3 separate regions of the Homo sapiens genome follow, and regions 2 and 3 are each linked to region 1. Evidence: fine-mapped expression QTL. A gene starts in region 1. Each other region holds a variant in brackets. All regions are shown on one strand. Distances are from middle to middle.

What was found. PIP is the estimated chance that this variant, and not a neighbour inherited with it, causes the effect.
Region 2: its variant is fine-mapped to the expression of SLURP2-AS1 in sigmoid colon (GTEx, PIP 0.90).
Region 3: its variant is fine-mapped to the expression of SLURP2-AS1 in prostate (GTEx, PIP above 0.99).

What each region holds. Positions count from the first base shown.
Region 1 is chr8:142,756,583-142,766,645 of GRCh38, forward strand. It overlaps SLURP2-AS1 (SLURP2 antisense RNA 1), which reads left to right and starts at 6,483. Exons shown (of 2, transcript XR_007061134.1): 1 at 6,483-6,913; 2 at 9,556-9,845. LYNX1-SLURP2 (LYNX1-SLURP2 readthrough) reads right to left here. Exons shown (of 5, transcript NM_023946.5): 4 at 8,454-8,558; 5 at 7,756-8,159. The coding sequence ends at 8,023. SLURP2 (secreted LY6/PLAUR domain containing 2) reads right to left here. Exons shown (of 3, transcript NM_177458.3): 2 at 8,454-8,558; 3 at 7,756-8,159. The coding sequence ends at 8,023.
Region 2 is chr8:142,781,857-142,791,919 of GRCh38, forward strand. LY6D (lymphocyte antigen 6 family member D) reads right to left here and starts at 4,683. Exons shown (of 3, transcript NM_003695.3): 1 at 4,609-4,683; 2 at 3,733-3,831; 3 at 3,026-3,600. The coding sequence starts at 4,660. The coding sequence ends at 3,365. RefSeq lists a silencer at 794-843. The variant C/T (reference allele first, on the strand shown) is at 5,842.
Region 3 is chr8:142,767,384-142,777,446 of GRCh38, forward strand. LYNX1-SLURP2 (LYNX1-SLURP2 readthrough) reads right to left here. Exons shown (of 5, transcript NM_023946.5): 2 at 8,523-8,738; 3 at 8,210-8,311. The coding sequence starts at 8,574. It overlaps SLURP2 (secreted LY6/PLAUR domain containing 2), which reads right to left and starts at 2,445. Exons shown (of 3, transcript NM_177458.3): 1 at 2,372-2,445. The coding sequence starts at 2,423. It overlaps LYNX1 (Ly6/neurotoxin 1), which reads right to left and starts at 9,819. Exons shown (of 4, transcript NM_177477.4): 1 at 9,723-9,819; 2 at 8,523-8,738; 3 at 8,210-8,311; 4 at 3,819-7,980. The coding sequence starts at 8,574. The coding sequence ends at 7,784. The variant G/A (reference allele first, on the strand shown) is at 3,787.

The DNA.
Region 1 (10,063 bases):
GGTAATGCCTTCTGATGGCCTCAATGGGTCTTGAGGAAAGACTCCTGGAATGAGACCCCACGCCCACTGCTTATCAGGGAGGCGGTGGGCGGGGCCTATGCAGGAGCCACTGCCTTCACATGTATACCTTTGCAAGGTGGCCTGCGGCCCAGAAGCCCCGCGAGCCAGGACCCCACGCAGCCAGCAGAGAAGTAGGTGCCTTGCCTGGATTCCTGCCTTCCATATTCAGGAAATAGAAGTCGCCCCTAGGCTCCAGGGCCCCTGGGAAAGGGAGCTGTGGTTTTCCAGCCCCTGCAGCACGAGGCGGTGCCCTGGCAAGGTTGTGGGTGGAGGCCTGGGCCTTCCACCAACACAGGCTGGGCTCCCTGCTGGCTCCAAGCCACAGTGAGGTGCCACAGGGGCAGCACTGGGGGCCTCTCCCCTGCACCCAGGTGAACAGCCCCGCCTGCTCTGCTCTTGGTGGCTTCTCTTCCGTCCTCTCACCCTGTTCACGTTTTGTGCTGTGAGCACCTCAGCTTTGGGGCAGGGGTCCCCAGGCCCCATGTGGGAGGCTGTGGCCAAGCCCGGGGCAGGGCAGTTTCTGATCACACTCGTATGAGATGGCCTCATTTGTTTTTTTGCCTCCAAAAGTGGAACTCCTCTATTCGGGCAGCTTCCTGGGTGGACGGGGAAAAGGAAGTGTCAAAAGTTCAGGCCTGGGGCACCCTTCCAGGCTAGATGCCAGCAAGGCTCAGGGAGGGCTGGCAGAGTCCAGTGAGGCCTGGGGGCTGGCTGGAAGGAGTCAGGCTTAGAGGTGCTGAGTGGGCAGGAGACACAATCCTGAGTCTGACACGCAGAGCCCTGTAGGAGCTGGCACTGTTCCCCTCTGTGGCCTTGTCCCCTGCTCAGTCCCTCCCAATTTATGTTGGCAATACCCACCCTCACCCAGAACCCAGAGGAGCTCTCTCTGCCACTGCAGCTCCAGGGCCCAGCGAGCCTTCCTGCGCAGCCTGCCTCAGGGTGGTCTCCCGGGAGTCTCAAGGGCTGCCCCACCTGGGCTCCGGCTCTCCCGGTCATCCAGCAGGGCAGGCCAATGGCTCCTAAACCAGTGTTCCTATGTTGAAAAGGAAGTGGAGGCACAAACAGCGCCAAGCGTTGTACGTTGGAAAGAGGTCTCCCGTGTCCTTCCAGAAGGGATGTGTCCTCCAGTGCCACCCTCTGCACCCACGCAGGTTAGCTCCCCTGCAGCTTCGTGATGGGAAAACTGCAGGGAACATGTGTCTGTGCATGTTCTTTGCCCCCTACCCTGTTAGGAGCAGCGGGTAGGAGCAGGGCTTGATCACACTGAGAACTGGAGCCAACTCCACCCACAGGGCTCACTGTTCATGGGACCACGATCCCCTCCCCTCCCCTTCCCTTTTTTTTTTTTTTTTGACAGAGTCTCCTTCTATCAAAGGCTGGAGTGCAACGGTGCTATCTCAGCTCACTGCAACCTCTGCTTCCTGGGTTCAAATGACTCTCCTGCCTCAGCCTCCTGAGCAGCTGGGATTATAGGTGCATGCCACCACGCCCGGCTAATTTTCATATTTTTAGTAGAGACGGGCCTCACTGCAACCTCTGCCTCCCGGATTCAAGTGATTCTCCTGCCTCAGCCTCCTGAGTAGATGGGATTAGAGGCTCATGCCAGCATGCCCGGCTAATTTTCCTATTTTTAGTAGAGATGGAGTTTCACCATGTTGGCCAGGCTGGTCTTGAACTCCTGACCTCAAGTGATCCGCCCACCTTGGCCTCCCAAAGTGCTGAGATTACAGGGGTGAGACACTGTGCCTGGCCTAGACCATGACTTTCCACCCTGCATCTTCATTCCTGAGCTTCACGCTTCCAGGAAGATAAAGCAGCAAATGGCTATCATTTATTGAGGATCTTCCCGAAAGGCCTATTGACTCTTCAATAGAAACTGTTAGGGGACACCTCAAGACTCAGAACCCATGGCCTCAAAATTCTAAACTACTTTTTCCGAGTCCTGGCTCAACACTAATGGAGCCCCCTCATTGGAAGACCTACCTCAAATCAGACTCAAATCCCAGGAGTGCTGGAGGGAGCTGGGGTGACCTGTCCTTGGGTTTTTGGTGACATTTTAGGGAGCCAGCATTCAACGAAATGCTAGTGGCATTTTGAAGTTTCCTGGACAGGGCTGATTTGTCCTGCGAGGGCTGCATCTGGGACAGCACCGAGGTTGGTCCGTGTCCTTTCTCGCCGCGTGGCCTGGTCGCTCTCCTGCTTGGGGGTTTGCAATTCTGCTTGGCACCTCTGTGATTCCCAGTACGGGTGAATTTCTTCTCCTTGGCTTGGCCACTTGAATGGCTTTTTCTGGAAACCTGCTGCTCATATCTGCTGCTCTTTGGGAATCTCGAAGGATTATTTACTGTAAACCAAAAATAAAATTCTAAGGCCCTCCACAACCATCTGAATGGACCCTCTTCTTGACTAGGGTATTCCAAAGTGAACCTGAAAAACTGGTTCGGATCATGCCGGGAAAGGGTTGGACAGCCTCATCATCCCTCCTCCCTCCTGGAATTCAGGAAAAGCTGACCACCGTTAACATCAACACAGACCTTCAGTCTGAGGAGAAGCATTTACCATCTATTGTCTCGGAAGCCTGCTACCTGGAGGCTTCATCTGACGATAAAACCCTGGTCTCCACCCCCCTTGTAATCCACACATTCCTTTCCATTGATTCCAGCTCTTTAGATAATCTTAACTCTTTCAACCAATTGCCAATCAGAAAATTTTTAAATCTACCTAAAACCTGGAATCCCACCCCCCCCCCCACCCCGCCCCCACCTCGTCCGCTGGAGTTGTCCTGCCTTTCCGGATGGAGAAATGTATATCTTCCATGTATTTGATTGATGTCTTCAGTATCCCTAAAACCAGACTGTGCCCCAGCCACCTTGGGCACATGTTCTCAGGGTCTCCTGAGGGCTGTGTCGTGGGCTATGGCCCCTTATATTTGGCTCAGAATAAATGTCTTCGAATATTTTACAGAGTTTGACTCTTTTTGTGGACGTTATGTGTGGAGGGAATCATCGCGTGTTACATGCGTGGCAAATATTTCCTTGTTTGTCTCGTCCTTCAGTTTGTTTATTCTTTTTTTCTTTTCTTTTCTTTTCTTTTATTTTAGATTTTTAGGTAGTATTTATGAATCCCAATCCCGGTTTTGTGTCTTTTCTTTTAAAAAAAATTTTAACAGCTTTATTGAATATACTTCACGCACCATACAATCCACCCGTTTACAGTGGGTAACTCAGTGGTTTCTCACGCACCATACAATCCACCCATTTACAGTGGGTAATTCAGTGGTTTGTCACGCACCATCCAATCCACCCGTTTACAGTGGGTAATTCAGTGGTTTCTCACGCACCATACAATCCACCCGTTTACAGTGGCTAATTCAGTGGTTTCTCACGCAGCATACAATCCACCCGTTTACAGTGGGTAACTCAGTGGTTTTTCACGTACCATACAATCCACCCGTTTACAGTGGGTAACTCAGTGGTTTCTCACGCAGCATACAATCCACCCGTTTACAGTGGGTAATTCAGTGGTTTGTCACGTACCATACAATCCACCCGTTTACAGTGGGTAATTCAGTGGTTTTTCACGCACCATACAATCCACCCATTTACAGTGGGTAACTCAGTGGTTTGTCACGCACCATACAATCCACCCGTTTACAGTGGGTAACTCAGTGGTTTGTCACGCACCATACAATCCACCCGTTTACAGTGGGTAACTCAGTGGTTTTTCACGTACCATACAATCCACCCGTTTACAGTGGGTAACTCAGTGGTTTCTCACGCAGCATACAATCCACCCGTTTACAGTGGGTAATTCAGTGGTTTCTCACGCAGCATACAATCCACCCGTTTACAGTGGGTAATTCAGTGGTTTCTCACGCACCATCCAATCCACCCGTTTACAGTGGGTAATTCAGTGGTTTGTCACGCACCATCCAATCCACCCGTTTACAGTGGTTAATTCAGTGGTTTGTCACGCACCATCCAATCCACCCGTTTACAGTGGGTAATTCAGTGGTTTCTCACGCACCATACAATCCACCCGTTTACAGTGGGTAATTCAGTGGTTTGTCACGCAGCATACAATCCACCCGTTTACAGTGGGTAATTCAGTGGTTTCTCACGCACCATACAATCCACCCGTTTACAGTGGCTAATTCAGTGGTTTCTCACGCACCATACAATCCACCCGTTTACAGTGGGTAATTCAGTGGTTTGTCATGCAGCATACAATCCACCCGTTTACAGTGGGTAATTCAGTGGTTTCTCACGCACCATACAATCCACCCGTTTACAGTGGGTAATTCAGTGGTTTCTCACGCACCATACAATCCACCCGTTTACAGTGGCTAATTCAGTGGTTTCTCACGCACCATACAATCCACCCGTTTACAGTGGGTAATTCAGTGGTTTGTCATGCAGCATACAATCCACCCGTTTACAGTGGGTAATTCAGTGGTTTCTCACGCACCATACAATCCACCCGTTTACAGTGGGTAATTCAGTGGTTTCTCACGCACCATACAATCCACCCGTTTACAGTGGCTAATTCAGTGGTTTCTCACGCACCATACAATCCACCCGTTTACAGTGGCTAATTCAGTGGTTTCTCACACAGCATACAATCCACCCATTTACAGTGGGTAATTCAGTGGTTTCTCACGCACCATACAATCCACCCGTTTACAGTGGGTAACTCAGTGGTTTTTACCATATTCGCAGTTTTAGCCCATTTTCATCATCTTGAAAAGAAACCTTGAACGCTTCAGCGCTATCTTTGCTCCATTCACTGTGAGAACGTGAAGTGGTTATTTTGTGAGATTGTGAGATGGATATTTTGGTTTTCTGACATTGCTTATTTTGTGAGATTGTGAGATGGATATTTTGGTTTCCTGACATACAGCTCTTAAAACCCTTGGAATCTCTGGAGTGGCAAGGGCATCTTTTGTATGCTAATGAGAGGACTGGTGACTGGGGGTCCCCAGGGAGCTTCAGGATGAGGGACAACGGGATTAGAGAGCTGGGACTTCAGCCCCACCCCCAGCCTTCAGGGGAGGGGAGGGGCTGCAGGTTGGGTTGGTCAGTGGCCAGTAGTTTAATCCATCATGCCTACGTAATGAAGCCTCTGTAAATTTCCCAAAAGGACAGGGCTCAGGGAGCCTCCGAGAGCAGAACATGCGCAGGTGTCTGGGGGTGGCACTGGGAGGGCCTGGAAGCTCTGAGCCCCTCCCTGTGCCTGCCCCACGCGTCTCCCCCACCTGCTGTGCGTCCACACCTTCGTCACAGCCTGTGTCATAAATGGGTAAACGCGGCTCAGTGTGTCCCTGAGTTCTATGAGCCGCTCCAGCAAGTCATCAAACCCGAGGAGGGGGTTGTGGGAACCCTGATTCATGGCAGGTTGGTCAGAAGCACGGGCCACACCTGGGGCTTGCGACTGGCATTGGAAGTGGGGCTCACTGCGTGGCACTGAGCCCTCCACCTGCGGGATCTGACGTGACCGCCACAGGAATGGTGTCGGAATTGAATTGAGGACATCCAGTTGGTGTCCACGGCAGTGTGGCTTGGTTGCTGGTGGAGAGAAATACACACACTTTGGTGATGGGGTGAAGTACTGTATTGTGTGAGAGCAGGAAAAGTACTCTGGCTTTTCCCTATTTCTTTTTGTTTGTTTGTTTGTTTGCTTTTTAAGATGGAGTCTCGCTCCTTTGCCCAGGCTGGAGTGCAGTGGCACCATCTTAGCTCACTGCAACCTCCGCCTCCCTGGTTCAAGTGATTCTCGTGCCTCAGCCTCCCAAGTGGCTGGGATTACGGGCATGCGCCACCACACCTGGCTAATTTTTGTATTTTTAGTAGAAACGGAGTCTCACCATGTTGCTCAGGCTGGTCTCAAACTCCTGACCTCAGGTGATCCACCCTCCTCGGCCTCCCAGTGTGCTGGGAATACAGGCGTGAGCCGCCACACCCGGCCTTTCCGTATTTCTTAATAATCCCTGCCACCACCTAGCAACCACTCATCTCCTTTTCCTCCCTATAGAGCTCCCTATTCCGGCCACTTCTGAGAAATAGAACTGTACACTGCTTGGCCTGTTGTGCGCGGCTTCTGTCTCACTTAGCATCGTGTTTTCAAGCACCCCCCGCGTGTTTTCAAGGCTCTCCCGTGTTTTGGCGTGGGTCGGGGCTTCATTCCTTTATGTGGCTGAATAACATTCTGTGGTGTGGGTCTGTCATCTCTGTGATCCCTCCATCAGTTGATGGGCATTTGGGTTTTTCCCGCCTTTTGTCTGCTATGAATAATGCCACTGTGAATGTTTGTGCACAGGCTTTTGTGTGGACTCGTGTTTACTCTTCTTGGGCCATGCCTGGGCGTGGAATTTGGCCTGGGGGTGGAATTTGGACCAGGTGGGGGGGCGGGGGTGGAATTGCTGTGTTTACAGCAACTCTGTCCAATCCTTTCAGGAACGTGTCTTGCTTTTCTATTCTGAATTATCTAGCATTAAAAAACCTCCTCTTTTTACATCGAAACCTCTCATTCAGTTGGCATGCCTTTGGCTGTAGCGAGAGAGGTGATGATCCAGCCTTATCCTGTTCTCTCCACAGTGCTCCACGGCGGCTGCCAGTGAGCCCTGTCCCTCTCCTGCAGATCTGAGAAGTGCTCCATTGTCACCTCAATTCTTGAGCTTATCTGGGTATCTCCAGCGCACCCTGTTTATGTCTTCTTCTGTGCCCGGGGCTACTCTGAAAGTTGTCCTGCACCTGAGTGTCCGGCGGCCCTGCCTGAGACACCCCCTCCTTGTGGAGCAGCTTAACAATTGCATCAGCTTTCTCCTGTGCTGATTCTTCATGAGAACGTTGCCAAGGTGAGAACAAGAAAGGCCAAGGAAAGGGCCTGGCGGTGTGTTTCTTGGCAGGTGCTAACTCAGTCGGGGGGATCTGGGTGCTGCAGGTATTGACTCACCTCGGCCTCTCCGAGGGGAGTGCCAGGCTTATGTGGGGGTCTCATTCAACCTTGCAGCCCGAAGCTCGGCCATGACGCAATGTTGCCTAGGGAGTGATCAACTTCCACAAACATCACTTACCTAGTTTCCATGTCCACCCTGAGATGGGTGGCCACAGCTGCCCATCACCTCAGTCTGATTCATCCCACTCCCAGCATCTCTCCCCAGCACCCTGCCTTGTGTGCTGGGTACCCAGTGGCCCAGAGGAGCTGGAGGTGGTGTTCCCTGCCAGAACTGGGGGTTTCCTAGAGAGGGGCAGGCCGGGCCACTGGCCCAGGGGCATGTATGAGGGCGAGGGTGAGGATGCCGCCTCACTCTTCTCCCTATTCCAGAAGGCCTGCTGCAGCCGTCTTTGCCAATGGCACCTCCTCCCTTCCTCCACCCCGCACAGCCTCCATGTCTCAGCCGGGGTGTCCTTTTTCTGAGGTTTCCCAACTCACGCTCTGGGGTGGAGGGCTCCTCATGTGCCCCAGCCCCAACTCCCACTCTAGCTGCTTCAGGAGAAGCAGCTGCCCGGGGTGCCTGGGCCCCCGTGCCCTTCAGGCCTGACAGTTGGCTGGAGGCGGGAGGGCCTGTTCCGTGATAAGGGCAAGTGGGGGTGGGGTAGTAGGGTTTAGCCTGGGGTGAGGGAGCGAGGCACCCCCAAATCTACTCCACTCTACTCCCAAGCCCAGGATGGCAGGACTCCACTCTCACTGCATAGCTTGTACCACACGATCCAATCACATTTTATTGTGGGGAGGTCGGGACCTGAAGGGGCGGCAGGCACGATGGGCCCCAGGCTTGGACGGCAGCAGATTGAGGCAAGACTCCACGCAGGACTTCCCTAGGACAAGCGGTGCTGGACGGTGGCTGCAGAGGCCGGGAGAGGTGGGCTGGCCAGTCTCGAGGGAGGGGCAGCTGTGAGCCCTGGCGCCAGGCTGTGGGGGCTGTGGGGGCTGAGCGTCCGGGGGCCTGGAGGAGGGCAGCCGTCAGTCATGGTTGCAGAGGCTGGTCTGGCAGCAAGCGATGGATACGTAGGGGCCCAGGCCCAGGCTGGGGATATCGGGGCAGCCTATGTGGCACATCTTGGTGACCAGAGGCAAATCCTCGGTGTTGCTGAGGACCCCTGAGTGGGCAGGAGAGAAACCATGGAGCTCCCTGAGGCTCTGGTTTGCCCAGACCCTGCTGCCCCATCTGCCACTGAGCTGAGGGTCAGACGCCCCAGGTACATGAAGCATACGGGCCCTCCTGGGGCAGACGTGGCCCTTTGCTCATACCCTTCCCTGGGCATCACTGGCGGACACTCCCCACTATGCTTCTGACTTACTGGGTGCCTGGATCTGGCTCTGTCACCCTCTGAGCCCACATCTTCCCACCTGGGCAAGAAGGACGTGGCCAGCCCACCACTGTTCCCACTTACGGGTGGCAGTGGTGACACAGTGGGTGGAGTCCCTCAGGCATCTGGATCCATGGGAGCACCCTCCGAAGCCCGTGCACTGGTGACACCATATGGCTTCGGCTGCAGCTGCGGACATGGGGACAGACAGGACACAAACGGATGGGAGGCAGGTGTGGGCCACCTTCTGCAGTGACGGCACGCACTCATCTCCACCCAGCAGCCCATGCTCCTTCTCAGCGGCCAGTGTCCCGACCCTGTGATCCAGCCCTCTCAGGAGCTGGGCCCCTGTCCCTCACCTTGGGGTGCCTGGCAGCCCTGCAGCTGGAGCCAGCTGGTTGCATCCTTGCCCAGGAAGCAGCCTTGGGCAAGGGTGGGGCCGGGCAGCCCTGGCTCGCAGTGTGATGTCCCAGGGCAGTGGTGGTGCAGCAGCCTGGGCTATTTGGGGTCCCAGGGTGGGGGGTGGGGAGGAGGTGGAGGGGCTCTGAGACACGCTTTCTGGCCATGCCCATTTTTGCCTCTGGGTACTGAGTGGGACCTGTTAGACCCCCGGGACTGGATTCTGGTGGCTGCGATGATGGGGCCGTTCCTGCCTCCACAGGGAGCCCAGGGCAAGGGCGACCAGGATGTGGTGGAACAGGAATTAAAAGAAATTAAAGAATGTGTAGGCCGGGCGCGGTGGCTCACGCCTGTAATCCCAGCACTTTGGGAGGCCGAGGTGGGTGGATCACTTGAGGTCAGAAGTTCAAGAACAGCCTGGCCAATATGGTGAAACCCTATCTCTACTAAAAATATAAAAACATTAGCTGGGCATGGTGGCGTGTGCCTGTAATCCCAGCTACTCAGGAGGCTGAGGCAGGAGAATTGCTTGAACCTGGGAGGCAGAGGTTGCAGTGAGCCGAGATCGCGCCACTGCACTCGAGCCTGGGCGACAGAGCAAGACTCCACCTCAAAAAAAAAAACAAAAAACAAAAAACAAAAAACAAAAAAAGGCTGTGTAAACAGAAACTCAGTTGTATGTAAGAAAACCCAATTCCCTCTGAGAAAGAGAAAGAACTAGAGTCCTTTAATAATTCCCTGCCTGTTCCTCTGTGGCTAGTGAGCCTTCTCTCTCCTCCTTTCCCAGGCGCTGTGGAGACACCGTTTCTCTAGTTGTGCAGCTGCAAGGTCACAGACAGAGAAACTCAAGTCGTAAAACATGTTTTTCCTTCAAAAGGAAGAAATGATGTAAGGAATGTCTCAATTCATTGAATCACTGTCTTTGTTTCTCGCTTCTGTAACATGCTTCCCCCTGCACCGATCTCCCCCCACCCCGCGAAATGCTTAAAAGGTAACTTAACTCTTTGTTCAGAGCTCAGTCCTTTGGATGTTAACCCGACTGGGCTGGTGCACCTAAATAATAAATATCCTCCTCAACCCCTTGGTCTCTCTGATTCCTTAAAACATCCCGCTACAGTGGCGGCACCCAGGCAGCTGCAGGGAGCGGTGAGCTCTGCCTCACTTTACCCAGGAGGACGGCCCGTGCTCGGGAGACACTGCTCTTCCGCGGGCGCTGCTGTGGGTCTGCCCCACTCCCGAGGCCTGCTAGCCCTCCTGGGCACCCCCCAAGGGCTTCCCTGCCTGCTCTCTGCCCC
Region 2 (10,063 bases), 25 kb after region 1:
AGAGTCTTGGCTGGGGCTGGGGCTGGGGTCAGGTTGTGTCCAGGACAGTTGAGGAGCTGTCCAGCAGGGTCACAGAGAAGCAGCCTGGAGGCTGGGAGACTGAGCTAGGGACCCCTGGAGGCACAGGGCAGAGGGCAGTGATGGGCTATGAGCTGTGACTGTCCTTGGGCTTGGTCTGGAGTCCTGCCAGCTCCCAGGCCCCATTGCAGCCACATGGGCAGCCTAGCCCTCTCTGGATCCTGCAGGTTCGCTCCCACTCCTGGGCCTTTGCCCAGGGCCCGCACGCAGCCTCATCCATGCTGCCTTCGTTGTCCCTGTACCTGCTGCTGCTTTGCAGTCTTCCCTGACCCACCAGCAGAACTCCCTCTTCCTTCATTCCTGGAGTTTGGTGGCCACAGCCCCCGTTTCCTGCCTTTCAGGGGTGGGAGTGGTAGGGGAGGTGGCATTCCCGCCTGCCTCCAGGCTGCACTGGACACAGAGCACTCCCGTTCCCTGGGCCCTGGATGAGGATTCCTGCAGCCAGCCTGCCGTGAAGTGGCAGGAGTCACTTTCCCTTGCCCAGCCTTAGTTTCCCCATACGGAAGTGGGGATGGGTGGGCCTGCGGCCTAGGCACTCCTACCCCTCTGCTCTCTGCCCGACTCCCATGCCCAGGTGCCTTCGCACACCCTGCCCTGGGCGCTTGGCAGGCCTCAGGCCACCTGTCCAGAGTGGAGTGGAAAAGGGCACAGATGGGGCCATGAGCGGCACTGGCCTGGGCGAAGGCGGATTTTCCCTGTGCAGGAGCCCCGGCACCCGGCTCTCCGGTGGCCACCAGAGGGCGCTCATACTCAGACCTCCAGGAGCACTCGCAGGCCCCTCCCACATGCCAGCACTCAGGGGAGAAGGGGCGCCCTCACCCCTTCACCCTGGGTCATGTCCCTGAGACTGGGGTTCAAGAGCCTCCAGAGAGGCCGGCTTGGAACACCCCAGGCCCAACCCCAGCCTCGGAGCCATGTGGACACTGACTACCCACAGCCACCACCCAGGGCAAGTCCAGCTGCCTGGGCCCATCCCCATCCATGGGAACCCAGCAGCCCCTTGGCCAGACCTCACCAGGGTGAAGCTGGACTGGAGGGGGCGGGGAGCATGACGCAGGGAATATGGGCCAGGTGAGGTCGCCCAGAGGCAGGGAGGGTTCCGCACCCACTGCGTGGGTTCTGGTATTTCGGGGATGAGGCTGTGACGTGGAGTGAGATGAGGCCCCCGGCAGATGCCCCAGCAAGGGGCCCTTCCCCTTCTGGAGAGGGCCAGAGGCTCCTGCAGGCTGACCCCACGCCCCCGGCATGGGAAGTCTCAGGCCTCACCTGGGTCAGAGCAGAGCTCTGCCTTCCCCCAGGGCAGCTCCCTCACAGGTCTGGCCTGGAAAACTTATGGTGACCGAGCCCCCTCCGGCCCCGGCCAGCAGACAGTGGTGTAGCATGGGTGGCAGCTGGTGAGGGGTCAGTGGTGCTCCCTGGCCCTGGGTCCAGGCACTCAGCTCTTTGTCCCACGCACCATGAGACCAGCAGCATTACCACCCCCAGTTCCAGCCAAGGGCAGGAGCACTAGGTGGGGTCTGAGGCCCCAGGAGCGCACGGAAATGCCTGCAGCCCTGCAGTGGCTGGGAGGGGGGCTGAGGGCCAGGGCCACCATTTAGTCACAGGCAGCATGTGGGGTGCTGGCTGCACCAGGTGGGTGCCCAGTGGAGGAAAATGGAGGCTCCCGGAGGTGGAGTGCTTTGCCTAAGGTCTCTCAGTCAGGGCAAGGAGTGACCCACCTTGGCCGCCCTGGGGAGATGGGCCTTGGGTGTGGAGAAGGGTGATCCCAAGGTGGAGACAGTGAAGCTCACCCAGACCCAGTCCTGGGTCGCGGTGCCTTGGCTGGGCAGGCAGCCCTCCAGGAGGGGGTTGCACAGTGGCCCTGGGTCCCAGGGGAGGCAGGATGGACAGGTGGTAAGAGCAGGCCTTCCCAAATCACGCTTCACCTCCAGTAACCATCCAGCACCCCACTCGCCCCCAGCCCCTCAGCTGGAACTGGGGGTGGTGATGGTGCTGGTCTCATGGTGTGTGGGACAAAGAGCTGAATGCCTGGACCCAGGGCCAGGGAGCACCACTGACCCCTCACCAGCTGCCACCCACGCTACGCCACCGTCTGCTGGCCGCGGCCGGAGGGGGCTCTGCCACCACGGAATTTCCAGGCCAGGCCTGCGAGGGAGCTGGCCTGGGGGAAGGCAGAGCTCTGCTCTGACCCTGGTGAGGCCTGAGACTTCCCATGCCGGGGACATGTGGTCAGCCTGCAGGAGCCTCTGGCCCTCTCCAGAAGTGGAAGGGCCCCTTGCTGGGGCATCTGCCGGGGGCCTCATCTCACTGCACGTCCCAACCTCATCCCCGAAATACCAGAACCCACGCAGTGGGTGCGGAACCCTCCCTGCCTCTGGGCGACCTCATCTGGCCCATATTCCCTGCGTCATACTCCCCGCCCAGTCTAGCTTCACCCTGGTGAGGTCTGGCCAAGGGGCTGCTGGGTTCCCATAGATAGGGTCCATGGGACTTTCCTGGATGGTGGCTGAACTTTCCCTGGGCAGCTGGACTTGCCTTGGCGATGGCTGTAGGTAGTCAGTGCCTACTTGGCTCCAAAGCTGGGGTTGGGCCTGGGGTGTCCCAAGCCGGCCTCTCTGGAGGCTCCTGAACCCCGGTCTCAGAGACATGACCCGGGGTGAAAGGCTGAGGGGTTCCTTCTCCCCTAGGTGCTATGTGTGGGAGGGGCCTGCGAGCCCTCTTACCCTGTGCTCCTACTCAGGCCTCACCCCAGGAGTGCCCTCCACCTCTGGGGCGGTGGGAGGCATCTGAGCAGCCTGCCCCTTCCAGGGTGGGGACGGACGGTGCCACCTCAGGCATCACCCCACGACTGGCCCCAGGGGACATGTGCTGGAGGCTCAGGGTACCTATGTGGCCTGATATCCGCCCCTCAGCTCCTCCGTCCCAGAATAGCACAGCCACAGCCACACTGGTTTAAATCATTTATCTCCATGTAGAGATTTGAGTACAAAAATAAACGGCAACAAAACAGAAGGAGTGTGAAATCCGGGGATCCACAGGGCTTCTGTCCTCCACCTTCCATGCAGCTGGGGGCTGCATCCTCTGTGGGGTGGCTTCATCCTCTGTGGGGTCTGTGGGGCCTGCTCCAAGTCATCAGCATTCCATGCCCACCTGGACCTGGTCCCAGACTTTCGGGGAAGCCCTCAGCCTGGGGCTCCTGGCACCCCCGTTGCGGCTGGGGAAGAGAGGTGTGGAATCCCCAGAGAAAGGGAAGGAAAGGCATGAGGGGCCTTCCCTGGGGGGAAGGTCACAGGCTGGGGGCTAAGATGACGGCCAGGAGGCTCAGGGCCAGCCCCAGGCTGAGGGCACTGTGGGCGAGGGCGGTGCGGGTGGGTGCAGCGTTGTGCAGCTTCTCATTGCACAGGTCCTCCTGGCAGCACTGGGTGGAGCTGGTGCCGCTGCTGACCTGGCCTTGCAGGGTGTAGCTGGGTGTGCACGACTCCGCACAGTCCTTCTTCACCAGATTCCCCCTCAGAGGCTCCACTGGGCACAGGTGAGTGTGGTCAGGCCAGGCAGCCACCTCTGCCCCCCACCTCCCCACAACCTTCCAGCCAACACCCACAACAGCCAGGGATGTCCCCCAGCCCCAGGGACACCTGGACAGATGCTACCCACCTGTGTTCGTGGTCTTGCAGAAGCGAGAGCTGGCCGGGCAGACCACAGAATGCTTGCAGTTGCTGGAGCTGGTGCACACGTGGCAGCGCAGGGTAAGGGCTGGCGGGGAGGGAGTCCGGCTCAGCGGGCCCAACAGAGGCCTCCTGGTGACTCAGCAGGGCCTGCTCCCCCACCTGCAGAGACCCCTCCTGGACAGAGGCCCTGCTGCCCTTGCCCTAGGCCCCCAAACCCGGGCTCTGGGTCCTGGCAGGGCATGTGCCCTGAGTGCAGCCTCAGGGGACATGTATTCCAGCCTGGGCCGGCTTGGAAGAGGTGTCCTGCCCTGCCCCTGTCTAGGGTGTGTTGCAAGCCTTTCCTCCAAGGTCTCAGGGAGCTCTGCGACTGCCAAGAGGACACTGGCTCTTGTCCCCACCCCAGGGGATGTCCCTGGAGGAGATGGCTATGTTTCTGAGGGCCTGACGGAGCTAAGGCCCCGGGGGCAGCCAGCTTGGCTGCTCTGAGCCTATGACAGGAAGGGCTTGGTGGCCTTTGGGCTGTCCTGGGCTGTGCTGGGGGAGACCTGGGGACCGGGAGGGGCTGGTGGCAGGGACTAGATGGCCGCTCTCCCAGTGAGAAGCATCTCAAGACAACCCCCTGCTCCACTCTCTCAGGGTCCGTGACTCCAGGAGTCAGTTCTAAGATCCTCAGATTCTGAAACATTGTAAATCTGACACTCGTTAAGATTCGGGCTCCATGTTGTTTTAAATTTGAAGAGTCTAGCACCCACAGTGTCGGGGTTCTCTGTGCCTAGATGTCGTCAGCTCCAGGCTCCTAGTATTTGGTGACCACACAGGCCACAGCCGCCCACCCGCCCGTCCCCTTGGCCCAGCCCCTCACCTGGCCCTGTAGCCACAGCCAGGGCTGCAAGGAGCAGCAATGCTGTCCTCATCTCTGATGTCGTCTGGGAGCAGTGCGGGCCCCTGCATTGCCAAGGCCTTATAGGCACGGGCTGGGCGGGGGTGGGCAGTCCGCCAGCCAGCGGCATTCTGCAGGGCTCTGTGCAAGCGTCAGCCCAGGACGGGCACCTGCCCCACCCTGCCTGGCCCACGCCCACCAGCCTGGCTGTCGCTGGGCGCTGCCCCTGCTGCCCCCCGCCAGGCAGAGGTCTGCCCTCCGCAACGGGGCCCAGTGGCCTCCTGGCCCTGCTGTTCCTGCTGCTGTGCCTCCATCTCTCCCACTTTCACTTCTCTGTCTCTGTGGGTCTTGTTCTCTCGCTGCCGTCCGTTCCTGGGTCACTTTGTCTCTGACCTGCCACCCGCTACCCCCCGCCCCCCACCCCCCACCATCCATCACCATCCTGTGTCTTTGTCCCTGCATTCCCCCCATAGTTCCCTCAATAGAGTTGCAGCCTGTGCCCGGTGCCCTGTGGGTGCCCGTGGGTGTCCAGGGCAGGGGAGGTAGGAAGGGCAGGTGCTGGTCCTACTCTCCTGGCTCTGGGCTCAGGGTTGCTGCCGGGGATGCAGAAGGTCCTTGAGCTGCAAGGGCTCGGGGTGGCTGTGGGCTGATGGGGTGTGTGAGGCAGAGGCAGAGGCAGAGGCCACTCCGAGGCAGGGAGGGCAGCTGGGGCAGCAGTGAGGTGAGCACTGGACAGAGTGAGGACTGTGAGGACCCGGCCCTCGAAGTTGCCTGGGGAGCCCTGTGGGCAGAAGGCCCGGGCTGTGGAGGCAGCAACTCCACCCTGCGTTGTGCAGGGAGAGACTGAGCCCTCCTGGTCTCCACCAGCCCTGCCTCCCGCCCTCCAGGGCCCCAGAAGCCCTCCCCGTGGGATTCCTTCCCCCACTCTCCAGGCCCCTCCTGCTACGTTGGGGGCAGCGCCATCCCGGCCACTTTGTAACTATTGCTCTAGGTGTCCCGGCTCCAGTCTCCCCAAAATCGTGAACTCTTTGGGGCTGGGCCCCAGCACCCAGGGCCTCAAAGCAGGTTCTTGGTCTGCTGCCCGTTGAGTGGAGGCCAGTCCCCGCCTTCACCCTCTTTATACTCACAGGAGGGACTTTCTTTCCCTGGAGACGGGGTCTCTGAGCACCCACCGCCTCGCGCAGGAGCCCACCTCTTGGGGCCCCCATCCACCTG[C/T]TCAGCCCAGCACGCTCTGCCGCTCGCCTGTGCTGGGCAGCACCCACCTGAGTGGTGTGGAGGGGCCCACAGACTTGCTTTGCCCCTGCCCTGGCTAGGCTGAAGGTGAGTGGGAGCCGGGGCACAGATGGAGGTCAGCCCTGGGCCCAGCCTCCTGCCGCCGCTGCCACGTGGCTGATGAACAGACAACAACAGGCCCAGGGCAGGGCAGGGCCGGTTCCGAGGAGGGTGGTCCTGGGCTGGGCTGAGGCTTTTGGGAGCACCGTGGGTACTGGGGCCAGTCAGGCCTGGGCTTGAGACAGACCCTCTGGCCCTTCCTCCCGGCATCTCTCCCTTGCTGAGCCCCACGTCTCAGATGCCGGGGATCCCAGCAAATGTCTCCTGAGAATGCTCCTGGCCGGGCTCTCCCTGACACAGTGCCGGGGCCTGGAGGATCCACCTACAGGAGGGGTTGCCTGGTGGTGCCTTTAGAAACCAGGGTGCAGGCGGGAGCCCCCTGGGGCAGCCCCACATTTGCATCTGGTGCCTGGCCCTGGCTGGAGCTTGGTGGGGACGTGTGTAGTCTCACTTGCCAAGGCAGGTGACCCAAAGGTCCATGCCCCCACCCAGAGAGAGGAGGTTTCCTCCAGCTCCAAGGCCCTGTGTCCATGGGTCACAGTGAGAGGCATGGGCAGCTTGGGGGAAGGTGCTTCCAGGGGCCTTGGGAGGCAGAGCTCAGGGCTTGGTGGCGGGGTGATGACTCGGTGGGCATGGCAGGTGGGGAGGGTGACTCACTGTGGCCAGGGGCATGAGAGCTGCTGGAAAAACAGGTTTGGAATTCCTGCTGGGTCTGGTGGAGCTGGAGGGTCCGGGATGTCAGGTGGCCTGAGAGTGGGTTCTGAGTGTGGGGCCATGGGGGAGTGTGCTCCCCACACCTGGGGCTGGAGGAGGGCCCTGCACACCTGGCTCACCCCCGTGGGACACCTCAGGCATCACTGTGGCTGCGTCCCTGCCAGGCATGGGAGCCGGAGCGGGGTTCCAGTTTTGTGGGATGAGGGCCTCTGACCTGGCAGGGCTGCCCACGAGGATGAGCTGCCCATCCCAGGTGGTCCTAGCAAAAGCATGAACAGCAGCCCTACACAGTTCACTTTCAGGAGAAAGCGGGTGCTTCTGATGCCAGGAGCCCTTGGACAGCTGAGCTTCTGGGGACAGTGCAGTCAGGGAGGGTTTCTTGTAGGCAGTGACCTGACTAGAGCCTCAGAGCCAGGGATTGGAATGTGGAGAGGAGACACTGTGGCCCCTCATGTCAGTCCCTGCCCAGTGCTTGTTCACTGGTGAGGAAGTGAGGGCCAGAGAGCTCCAGGCACGTTCTGGGGCAGAACCTGGTGGGGTCTCAAGCACTTCTCACTATCACCGCCAGCCTTTCCCCCCTCCTCCCTCCTCTGTTCTCTAGGGCCTGGGCCCTCCCCCACTCCACCCCTCCCACTCAGCCCCTGGAGCTGGGGCCCTGGGCCTGGTTGGTACCATCAGGGTATTGGCAGCAGAAATGACACCTGGGAGAGGCGACGAAGGGGCCTGGGGCAGGGAAAACCACCGCCCCACCCCGTTAGCCTTGCCCCCTGCTCCCTGAACCAGGAAACCCGGCACGGGGACAAGCCCAGGCTTCTGTCTGGAGCCGAAGTTCCTTGCTCATGCCCCTTCCCCCACCTTCTGCCCCCTCTACCTTATGCTGGGCCCCTAGGAACACACAAGGGTGTGGTGGCTCAGAGAGGGAAGCGCCTGGCTTAGGGCGGCACAGCACCGTACTCCAGGCTTGCACCAGCCCAGCCCTGGGCCCTGTCCTGGCTGAATGGGTGCCTGGTGGACAAGGCGGGGCCCCGGGCTGGAGAAGCTGGCTGAGTGGGTGCCCGGTGGACAAGGCGGGGCCCTGGGCTGGAGGAGCTGGCTGAGTGGGTGCCTGGTGGACAAGTCAGGGCCCTGGCCTGGAGGAGCTGACTGAGTGGGTGCCCGGTGGACAAGGCGGGGCCGCGGGCTGGAGGAGCTGCCTGGGCTGGAGGAGCTGCCTGGGCTGGAGGAGCTGGGAAGCCCCAGGGCACAAGGAAGGGCTTCTTCACCCTCAGGCTGTTACCTGGGCAAGCCAGAATCCCAGCCACACCCCAGGGGTTCCAAAATGCATCCGTCTGCCTTGAGGCACTCCATTCATTCATTCATTCACTCACTCATTCATTCATTCATTCTTCAACATTTTATAAGGACCAACCATATGCAAGGCACTTTGGATATAATGGAAACCAGGAGAGAAGAGAGACAGGGCCCAGGTCCCAGGGCCTGCAGACCAGTAGGGAGTGGGAACAGACAATTGCTGCCTCTGTGGGACCCACAGCAGGGGTGTGATGATGTGGAGGGTGAGGATCTGGGGCTGAGAAGCCAAGGGAGGACCAACCTTGTTGGAGCTGTCTAAGCAGGGAAGGGTGTGTGGCCATTACCTGGTAAGCAGGTGGGTGTCGGGCAAGGGCATTGGGGCCCAGGTGCCAGGCCGCTTTTCTGTCTCTTTCCCCCGCAGGGGCAGGTGGCTGCCCCAAGCTGAGCGGCTGAGTGTGTGGTGTCTTTCTAGAGGCTGCCCTGATCCTCTCAGCCCCCTCACCTGCACAGATGGGGCCTCAGATGGACAGCAAGGGCCCGGCCTTGCCCGGCATCACCCAGCAAGCGGGAGCCACAGCTGGGCTGGGCCTCTGGGCCTGGGCTCTTCCCTCACACCTGGCCTCCCCACTCCTCTTTCTAGTGCCGGAGTCACCTTTACACATAGCACCACAATCTCAGGCAAAGTCTCTTTCACCTGCTTCCCAGGGCCAAGCCTGGCCCTGCCCTAGTCTTAGGTCACCCCCTGGGACCCTGGCTACCAGCCACCCCTCCCAGGGTACACCTAGTGTCCATGGGCCGGGCCGGGCCGGGCCAGGGGCCGGGGATGGAGGCCAGCTCTGCCCCTCCACACAGGCCCCTCATCCTTGCCAGGTCTCTCTTTCCTGCACTGCCAGGGGGGCAATCTAGGGAGCAGTTTCGTGGATGGAGAAACCCTTCTACCTTGGGGCACAGCTTGTTCCCAGCAAAGGCTGGACTGGGGCTCTAGGTTCCTAAGGCCCAAGAGAAACAAACCTGTTCCCAGGCCTGGCTGGTGGTGCCCACAGGCGGGGCTGGCACCTTCCCTGGGAGAGGCACCATTTCAGCACCTAGGACCGGCATGGTCCCTGCGAAGCGCTGGCATTCAGGGGGCTAGTCAAGGGTGCCCAGTGCCAAAGTCTGGGCGATGAGGGAGAATCCCTCAGGGTGTGAACTGTGTCCAGCCTGTGGTAGGGGGAGAGAGGTTGCAGCAGAGTGCAGCCCTGGAGCCACGGAACCATAGCGCAAACAACTGTGGGGACCTCAGAGTCCCAAGACTGCAGGCTGTTAGCATGGGCTTGCAGAACACAGAACCCTAGAATTGCAAGACCTAAGGAACCTGGATGAGAATCAGGTGCCCTGGACGGGGGTTATTTTCACACATTAGGACATGCTCCCACCAGCATTCTAGGGAATGTCAGAGGGTTTGTGTTAATGCTGAACTCCTGGGTTCTCCCCTCTGCTAGGCCACAGCTCAGTCTACTTCCTGTTGTGGCCTGGAACTTGTGGCTGCCAACCCTTAGCTCCATGAGGTAGGTTCAAGGCTGGTGAGCACAGGGCCCACCTCACTTTCCTCCCCCACTCCCCTGCCTTCATTTGCTCCCAATACATACCTGCTCATCCATCCTCTATCCTCCATCCATCCATGCATCCATCCATCTACCATCTGCCCACTCATTCTCCACTCATCCACCCACCCATCTATCCATCCACTCATCTGTCTATTCTCCATCCATCTATTCATCCCTCATCCAGCAATCAATCTACCATCTGTCTACCCATCCATTCATTCACTTATCCATCCATCGACTCATCCATCCATTCTCCATCCACTCATCATCCATCCTCCATCCATCCAGTCATCCATCAATCAATCTACCATTTGTCCACCCATCCATCCATCCATCCACTCATCTGCCCACCTTCCATCCATCCAGCCTTCATCCATCCATCCTCCATCCATCCATCCTCCATCTTCCATCCATCCAGCCTCCATCCATCCATCTTCTCATCCATTCATCTTCCATTCACTGATCATCCATCCTCCATCCATCCACCCACTCACCCATCTGTCCTCCATCCATTC
Region 3 (10,063 bases), 11 kb after region 1:
ACAGCCAATAAGTCGGACACGCCTCTACTCAACACTGGCAGCCACAGGCCACAGCTGGCTGGGGTGGGGGGTAGCAGGGAAGATGGGCAGGAGGCTGGGGCACCAGAAGGAGGAGGTGAGGATATGGGTGCCCAAGGGTGCCATGGAGAGAACCAGCTCCAGCCTGTCCACTACACATGCCCACGCTCCCAAGGCCTCCCTGGCTTTGAACTTGCTGTTCCTCCTGCCCTCTGGGCAAAACAAGCCCTGGTGCAAATGCCACCCCCTCCAGGAAGGCCTCCTTGGTTTCCAGGGCAGAGTGAATGGTTCCAACTCTGACACACCCACCGTGAACTGCAGCATCCTGCCCCAGCTGGCATCAGTGTCCCTGCTCCAAGTGATTGTGCTCAGGGCTCCTTCCTCACCCCCACCCAAGCATGAGGGCCTCTGAGGCTGGGCAGGGCGTTCTACCCATTCCTCAGTGCTCCCTCCCCTGCACTTAATGAGGCCCAGGAGAGGCTTGCAGAATGAATGAATAAATGAATGAATGAATGAATGAATGAATGAATGAATTCCGGGGGTGGTTGCAGGTTGGGTTATCAAGAGAAATAATAATTCTGTCCCTTATCAGAGGGTTTTTGATTTTCAGCAATGAGATCCTGAGGGAAGCAGATAAAATGTTAGCTCCAAACCGGAAAGGCTGCTCGATGGTGACTGTGAGGACACAGGGACAGTGTTCAGACTGGCGCCTGACACACGGGAGGGAGGGGAGATCAGGGGGAGAAGAGGAGAGAGGAAGGGAGGGAGGAGGAGAGGAAGGAAGGAAGGGAAGGAGGGAGGAGGAATAGAGAGGAGGAGGGAGGTGGGGTGGGGGGGAGGGGGCAGGAATAATGGAGGGACAAACAGGATGGTGGGATGGGCTCTGGGTGTAGCTGCATGGCTGGGGGCAGGTCTCTCCCACTGGGGACCCCCGTGCTGGCTCTGAAGCAGGCTGGCCCCTCGGGGAGATTGTGCTGTCCATGTATGGCAGAGAGCAGACACCAAGCAATGACAGGGGATGCAGGTGCCCCTGAGAGAGGCTCGCCAGTCCTCCAACCGGAAGAGCAGTGAGGCAGCTTGGGGCTTGTTCCTCGAGGGGCAGGTGGGATTTCAGCAGAAGGAAGGGCTCCAGGAGCCCTGGTGCAGGGAAGGGCCTCTGGGTCAGAGGGGAGTCCGTGGGCACCGGGCACCCAGGCAGAGGCTCCTGTGATGTGCCATCCCTGGCCTGGATGGCCACCTGACTGCCTGTCCAGTCCTGATGGTTACAAAGGCCTTCTCCAGGTTAAGTCGAGTCCCCAGGCCCCTGTGTGTCTCGGACCTTCAGCACAGAGCTGGTCTGCCCTCATGACCCTGGGGCAGTCCTCAGGGTCAGCGGCTCAGCCTCTCATAGGCCAGGAGGGTGCCCCTGGGGATGGAGACTGGAGGGATGTAAGAGACACCTGAGCCAGCGCCAGGGACTCACCGACGCTCCACCCCCTGCTCATTCAGGGCCTGGGAGGCAGGGGCTGCCCAGGTCGTTCAACCCACAGCCAGGGACGCAGAGGCTTGGCCCCTGGGGGGCTGGGCTGCTTGGGCTTGGAGGTGCAGGCCACCGGCAGATCAAGGGGCCAGCTGGTTTTGTTGAGGCCTCAGGGTGGGGGTGGAGATGCCCTGCCAAGAGAAGACGTTCAGGCTCTGCTGGGGGATGCCAAGGCCAGGTGTGCACAGCTGTGCTTGAGGGGTCATCCCCTTGGAGCCCTCAGGAAGGCCCTGGGCCAAGGGATCTGAAGCTGGGGGGACAGGGCCAGCCGTAGCAGACGTGGGCACTGCGGGGGTCGAGGGTTGGGGGATGGGGAGGGGGTAAAATCACCCAGGAAAGCGGGGAGCAGAGGAGAGGACCCGGGAGCAGGAACTGGGGATGGGAGAGCAGAGGGACTTGGTTTTCCCAGGCAAGAGGGAAGAGGGAGTCCCGGGAGGGTGGCCCCAGGAGACAAACCAGCTGGGAGGCCAGGCCCAAGAGGGCTGGAGGGGGGCACATTCAGAGTGTGTGTGTGCACGTGCACGAAGGTGCGTGTGTGAGGGGTGTCGCGGTGGACTGGAGAGGTCTGGGGGCTGGGCAGAGGAAGAGGGGGGTTTGAGCCAAGGGCTGTGCATCCTGAGAAGTGTGGGGGCCAGTGTCGGGGGCTGGGGCTGAGCTGGATGGACCTGCAGGATCGCAGGAGGCTTTCGGAGGAAAGCTGCACCTGGTAGATGGTGGGGGGACAGGAATGGGTTCTCCCGAGGTGGGCAGTCACAGCCCAGGGCTGGAGGGACGGTGGTTGGGCTAGAGTGATGGGGGCCTTGAGCAGGAGGTGGCCCCAGCCCCTGGACTCACCCAGCTGCAGGCTCAGGACGGCGGCCAGCAGGAGCCCAGTGCCGAGCTGCATGTTCTCCTGGTGAGGTCGGGCTGTCGGCGCCCTGGCCGGCTGCCTTATACCTGCTGGCACCCCGCCCTGGCCCTCGCCCGCTCAGCAGACTCTGCGGGTCTGAGTCACCAGGCAGCCGGGCTCAGTCAAGGAGCCGGGCTGGGGTCCGGGCGGTAGGGGCCAACCTGGCCCCAAAGCTCGCTGGTTAGGCCTCTGAGCGGGCCGGTGTCATCTCATGAGCCATCTCTCCTTGTCCATAAAGTAGGGATAGCCCTGGCTGACAGGATTGAGGATCTGATAAAATGGCCTGGCACCAGGCAAGCAATGGCCACAGGCCACTCTCCCTCAGTGGCTGGGAAGGAAGGCCTGGCACCAGGCAGGTGACGGCCACAGGCCGGTCTCCCTCAGAGGCTGGGAAGGAAGGTCTGGTGGGAAGGAGGGTCTTGGGCACCAGCCACCAGCCCACCCCTTACGCCTCAAAATGCACATGAAGCTCAGGGCTGGGTGGAAGCCACAGGCCTTCATCTGTACTCCCACCCTAGAATGAGTTCCATGACAAGACCTCCTCCAAATAAGCCAGAGCTTTCCCATCCTGACCCCCGCAGGGCTGGGAGAACACAGAGGGAGCATGGTTGTGAGCCACCTCTCTGTCATCCGTACAGGGAATCATGGCCATTGTCACACTGTGACTAACGCCCCAGGATCTGTGCAGAGGAGTAGGGGGGACAGAAAGGCCCTTGGTACTAAAAGGGACCCCAAGGATAAGGTAAGAGCCCAGAAGGGACACCCTGGAGAGCGGGAGCCATCAGCTGTTCCTCCAAAGGCTGGCCAGGGGCTGGGGCCCCAAAGGGCCTGTCCGTAGCCAGTCAGCCATGCCAACCCGGGGACCCCTATGTGTCTCTCGGGCTGCCCACATGGCTTCTGTCTACCCCTCCGTTTCGGGGGCTCCTTATGGCTGGGAGGTGGGCCCAGGAGGAGGGAGATCCTGAAAGAGGGGCTGGCAGATCCAGGCCCTCCTTCCTGGGGCAGTCGAGAAGCTGGGGTCAGGAACCAGGTAGGCAGAGAGGTCAGAGATGGTGGGATGGGGTCCTGGGGGAGTTCCCGCCTCCCTTACCCCGCACACCCAGACTTCCTCAGGGGTTTGTATGCCCCTCAGGGGTGCTGGGTGGGGGGTGGCCTCTCTCCCACGGAACTGGGAGCAACTCTCAGCAAGCCCCAGGAGCCCTGCCTGTCTCCCTCCCTGTGCCTGGCTCCGAGGACAGGTCAGGCCTAGAGGCCAGAAAAGTCCAGGACCTGGACCGGGTAGGGTAGACAGGAAAGTGGCTGCATGCAGCCTGGAGTGCCAGCCCAGCCAGGCTGGAAAGGTGAGGCCCGAGCTCAGGCC[G/A]AGGCAGTGGGGCTGGAGAGAAGCGCAGACAATGCGAATCTGTTGATTTATTTACGGCTCGGTGAGACGACGCTGGACGCTGGTTAGGGTAAGGGTTAGGGCAAGCATTAGCAGCAGGGGCATGGCCCTGGGAAGCACCTGGACCCCAGAACATAAGACAGGAGGGAGAGATGCCATCCATTCAGCGGGCACTTATGCCCACGACCAGCTGAGCCAGACCAGCATTCCCATTTCACCACCCCTTACTCCTCAAGATGCAAATGAAGCTCAGGGCTGGGCGGAAGCTGGCAGGGCTGTCCACAGGGAGGACCCCCGTGTGTCTCTCGGGCTGCCCAGGTGGCTCTGTCCACCCTTCTGTCTGGGAGGCTCCTTAAGGCTGGGGAGGGCCCAGAGGGAAGGAGATCCTGAGGGGCTGGCAGATTCAGGCCCTCCCTGCGAGCTGAGGTTTGAAGAGGAGAGCAGACCACCCAGAGTAGTGGGAGAAAGCACCGGCAGAAAAGCTGGCATATCCACCGAGGGCCTCTCTGCTTCTTTTGACCTTTTTCAGAGTTTCAGAGTTATGAACCAAATCGCCTTCATGAGAGATGACGAATCAGATGCTACATAGTGGGGGAGGCGGCAGCTGGCCTGGCTCCCCCACTTCCCCAGGACCTCCGCCTGGAGGAAGCCTGCCCAGGGCCGCAGCCCTGCCCCCAAAGACCCCAGGACAGACCAGAGCTCCTGCTGGAGCCGGGTGTCCCCATGCTGACCTGGCCATGTCCCCAGGTCCCACCCCAGGGTCACTTCCTGTAGCTCCGACTTCTCTAGTGGCTGATTGCAGTTCCCAGAATGTATAACATCCCAGGGTGCCAGAGCCCACCCAAGCAGCCACTCCTGTCCAGTTCCCAGAATGTATAACATCCCAGGGTGCCAGAGCCCGCCCAAGCAGCCACTCCTGTCCAGTTCCCAGAATGTATAACATCCTAGGGTGACAGAGCCCGCCCAAGCAGCCACTCCTGAGTCACTCGGGCATGTCCAGGACTCAGGTCCACACAGACAGTGGCAACAGCTAGCCCTGGGCATCTACCCCCATGAAGGGGACCCTCGGTTCTGCGAGAGAGATCCCCGAAGTGGGAACTGGGCCCCCATGGTGCCCAGTGCCTCTCCCCCTCTCCTCTGCCACTCTGCCCTGCACCCAGAGGCAGCGCTGGAGGCCTTACTCTACCACTCAGGGCTTCTCAAACCTCTGGTTCCACTTTTCTCCTTTTAAGCTTTCCATTTTGTAAACTCACCTCCCCCTTCCCAGGCTTGGGGGTCCAAGGAACCCCAGCTGGTGGGAGAAGCGGCTGCACTGTGGTGCAGGGGGTGGTGAGTGAGCGAGGAGGCACTAGTGTGGGGCAGCTACTTCACCTCCCTGTGCCTCTGTGTCCTCCTCTGTCAAAGGGGCAAGATAATGGCTCCCATTGCCGGGCTGCTATACAGTGCTCAGGGCCACAGTGCAGTGGGGGGACCCACGTCCATCGCCACCTTGATGCATACAACCCGGACAAGTTTACTGCTGTGATTTCTGCCGGCGCTGCTGTGCCGGTTCCCTGGTGCTGCACAGCCACGCACTCCCCATGAGTGGGCCTGCCCAGCATTAGCTGAGTGCCTTCTGTGTGCTCTACGCCAGGTGCCAAGGGCAGGCCAGCCAGGCAGAACCATGTGTGGGGCTGGGACAGGTCAGGGTGGTGGAAAGGTGGACAGAAGGAGGCAGGAGGCAGGTGTGAGAAGCTGCCCACCCCACCCCTCAACACCACAGCACTTCCAGCTCCAGCAGGTCCTTGTTCTCAGCTGCCCCTGAGCCATGGGTGGCCAGGTCTCCTCCCCATCACCCCACTGAGACTCGAGACAGGGAGGACCTGATCCTGGAGTCCCTCCCAGCCCTGGCTGAGGAAGCCACCCAACCCGACAATGGGCTTGCGCAAGCCGCGCAGTGACTGCTCCCAGCCTCTCCCAAGGACTTAGGAGCCCAAAGCCGCCTCCCTCCCGGTAAGCATCCCAAGGCATCGCTGGCTGCAGCTGAGAGGGCCTCATTTGGGCACTGCCCTGAGGCTGGCACTTGCAGGTGGGGGCCCTTGGGAGCTCTGGGAGGCACCTGGCAGCCTCCCAGACACCCCGGGCCGGTCCTGCTCTCCAGGCTTAGGGCTACAGCCACAACCACTGGGGGTAGGGGCGAGGGGAGTCCAGGCCCACCCTGTGCTGGCAGCAACTCCTTCCCAGCTCTGGGCCCAGTATGATGCCCATCTTCCCTCTGGGGAGTCACGTTCCTCCCGCTCCGGGCCCGTTCCCACCCAAGGTCCCTTTGCAGAAGACTGGCACTGTCCTCCTCCAGCGGGAACTGGGTGTGCCCTCAGCAAGACTCTGCCCCCTCCCATCCTCATGTTCTCAGGAGACTGAAGCTGGGCACTCAGAACCAGCCCCAGGAGCAGAACGCAGGCCTGCATATAGACTCACTGCAAGGAGACCCCTGGGGTGGAGACCCTCATTCCCTGATCCCCCAGGGGTCCTGCATCAAAGCTCTGGAGATGCAATTTCCAGCAGGGGCTCCCCTGACCAGGGCCATACTTTGGGGCCGGGACAATCCTACCACATGGATATGTCACCATCCTGCCCATGCGGGATGGCTTGAAGGGTTTCTCAGGACACCAGAGCTGGGAGCACTGGTCAGGTGGGGGCCTCAGGTGCAGCGTGACCGCTGGCACCAAAAGGTCTCACGCCCCCGAATGCCCCATTCACAGCAGGGGCAGGTGCTCCCTGGGCTACCTGCATCGGGGATGGATTGGTGCGTGTTGGGCTGACCCCTGCTTCCCAGGCCTGGGGTGGGGTCCCTGGGAGTCCACACACCCAGCTGGGGCTTCCACCCTGCCCTCCCAGTGGGTGCATCCCCAGGTGGAAGGTGATGGAGGGACCCACTCACTGTGCGCATCCCGCTGCGGGGGAGGGGCTGGGTCTCCGCCCTCCCCACCCCACCCTCCCCACTCCCGCCCCCGCACGGCCACGAGAGGGTGGCATGCTCCGCCTTCCCACGCCCAGGCCCGCGCCGGCCCCAGGCTGCTCCCAACCCCCAGCCTGTGCGCGCATCCCCCAGTCCTGCGTCTTTTGCCTTGCTCGGCTGGGTCCTGCTGTGGTTGGGGACCAGGACTCGGGGGACCACCTGCTCTGCCCCTTTCCCTCCCTGCCCAGAATAGCGCTGGCCGGGTCAGCGTCCAGGACCCACCAAATATAGCATGGCCCTAGCTCCTGCCAGCTTCAGGCCTGGTGCCCTCCCCGTGAGGGGGTGGGAAACGTCAAGGGGTTTGACTGAGAGGACACACACCCCTTGCTGGACCCGAAAAAGCTTCTGTGACTTCGGGGGCCCTGGGGCCTGCTGAGGCAGAGCCGCCCCCTCCCCTGCAGGGGGTGGCTCCAACTCGGGCCTGGCAGACTTCCTAGCACAGGGGCCGGTGCCAAAGGCCCTCCTCCCACAGCCCTGATCCCGTACCGGTCCTGGCAGCTCCTGGCCTCAGTAGGAAGCGTGACTAGGCCTGGAGGAGCCTTTCCTCCTAAGAGTCTCCCCACCACCCCACCTGCGGGCATTCCTTGTCTTCCCCCTGCCCCAGCACACCAGGGGCAGACTGAGGCAGGGGCCTCTCCTAGGGCTTCCCAGAAGGTGGGCTTGGCCACAGCTCCCATCTGCTCAGTGCTCCCTGCCTGACTGGGCCCCTCCCCATAAATAGCCCTGGACAGGCGAGGGGCTGATCAGCCCATCAAAGCCGGACACTTTTGGGATCCCACACAGCATCGAAAGGTCAAGGCCTCGAAGTGAGGTCGTGTGGTGGTTGGGGGAGGTCGGGTGTCTTCTTGCCCACAGTCCTGACCCTGGGCATGGCTGAGGAGGTCGCAGGGAGTGTGGAGGGTGAGGCAGGGTGAGCTGGGTGCGAGGGTGTAGCAGTGTGTCTCGAGAGCTTTGTTCTTGAGTGGGTCTGCCTCGGGGGCTTTAGAGGAGACCCCAGAGGGTGGCCAGGAGGATGGGGGCCAGGGCCAGGGTGGCCGGGGTGGCAAGGCCGGTGCCGTTGCAGAGGTCGTACTGGCAGCAGGAGGTGGTGGACGCGTGCTTGGAGTAGCCATCATACACAGTCTCGAAGCAGCGGGGCACGCAGGACTTACTGACCTTCATCCTGGTGGGGGTGTAGTCTGCAGAGGGGCGGGGCGGTGAGCCAGCTCCGCTAAGAGGGGCAGGAGACCCAGCTGGCCCCACCCCAGCATCCACAGCCATCAGGGCAGGGCCCCTCAGCCTGGAGCTCCCAGACAGGATCCGGGAACAGGAGAGCCTCCTTCCTCAGGACCCCCGCATGCTCAGGGGCAGGGCAGAACCTCCCCTTCGTGCTCCCCAGGCAGGGCCACGCAGGGCCCCCAGACTCACAGGTGCGCGTGGTCATGCAGTAGGCAACCATAGCCGGGCAGCGCATGGGGTTGAAGCAGTTGTCTCCGTTGTAGGCACACACGTGGCAGTCCAAGGCCTGGGCTGGGGTTGGCAGATGGGCGGGAAGGGAACGGGGGTCACAGAACATGAGAGGCCCCTCCTCCAGCCCATCAGGCCCCCAGCCCGTCACCTTCCCCGGGGCAGGGGGCTAGAAGGAGGGGTTGTCGCTGGGAATTCTAGCCTCCTTCCCTACTGTCAGCCCATCTGCCCTCAAAGTGGGTCTGCCCATCCCTCTGTCCTTTGTCCATCTTACCCAGAGGTAAGCCCATGAGGACCACCAGGATCAGGGTGAGCAGGGGCGTCATGGCTGCAGGCAGGAGGGCAGCGTGGGAGTGGGGAGGTCAACAGCAGCTAGCCCTGGATCCAACTCAGGGGTGGCGCACAGAGGATCCAACTCAGGGTGGTGCGCAGAGGACGTGGGGCCGGCCCTGCCTCCCGGAGCTCCTGGTCTACTGGGAGTGCTGCAACCCTGCACAGCAGGTGGCAAAGACAGGTGGTCAGTACTGGGCCTGAAGGACCCATGGGGGCCTGGGCAGGGATGATGGTGGGCAGAGGGGCCACCTAACTCAGTGGGTGTCAGGGAAGGTTTCCTGGAGGAGGAGACACTTGGGATGGGACAAGAAGGGAGAAGAGATCAGGACATTTCAATCAGAGACCAGCACCTGCAAAAGCTCAAAACAGCCTGTAGCGCTGGATGGAGGAGAGATGGGGGGAGGATGAGGGGCAGTGCTAGAGAAGGAGTAGGGATGGGCAGAGGGGCCTTAAATACCAGGCCTAAACAAGGATTTTACCCAGGGGATGGTTGGTGCAGAGGTCCCATGGGAGGTGGTCTGCAGCCCCATCCCAAGCAGGGCCCTGGGGGCCGGATGGCTGGCCATGGCAGGACTGGGCCCAAAAGCTGGGTCTCTTCTCGCTGTTCCCCTCCTCTCTGCTCCTGGGGTGTCCCTACTTGGGGTTCCTTCTTCCAGAAGACCTCCAGAGCCCTGGTTAGGGTTGTCTGAGTCCTCGGCCACTGCAGAAGCTCCCCAGCAGGGATGAGCTGTGCCCAGCTTGGGGGGAATGCATTTTGAGCCCCTCCCAGGAGGGCACTTGGGCCAGACAAGAAGAAGCATTTCCCCGGCTGGGTCTGGTGTTTGGAACGGGAATGCCCTCTCTGGAAAGAGGTTTACAGTGGGGAGGTGGGGGTTGGATTACGGCTCTCCTACCCCTGCCGGGATACTCGGCCCTCGGTCTCCGTCCTGGAGGACTAAATTAAACTTACGCCTTCCCGAGAACAACAAATCCGTCTCTCACGACACATTTGCCCAGGCCAACCCCAGGATGCCAAAGGCCAGAGTCAGGCCTGCGGCTTCGAGCTTCCCAACCCCCTCACGGAGAGCCCCGCCCCAAACACTGCGGTCCCAGGTCGAGGGGAGGGCTCTCGGCGCGAGCGGGACTATCAGGGTGACCTCACCTGTGACCTTCACCACCGTGAGGTACCGCCGCGCCTGGGAGTCACCCGCGGCCGCTCGCCGGTAGGTGCCTGCCTGAGTCTAATCGTAGGCGTGTCTGTGTGTCCCGCAGCACCCGTGCCGCATCGCCTGATGCTCACCGCAGGCCCAGCCCAGTCCCGCCCCCGGAACAGCCCGCCCAGCGCGAGCTCACCGCAGGCCCCGCCCCAGGCCTGCCCCGGCCCCACCTCCTGAGCAACCCCCCGAGCCGAGCTCACCGCAGGCCCCGCCCCGGACCCGCCTCCTGGGCTACTCACCAAGCCGCGCTCACTGCAGGCCCCGCCCCTGCCCCGCCTCCTGGGCA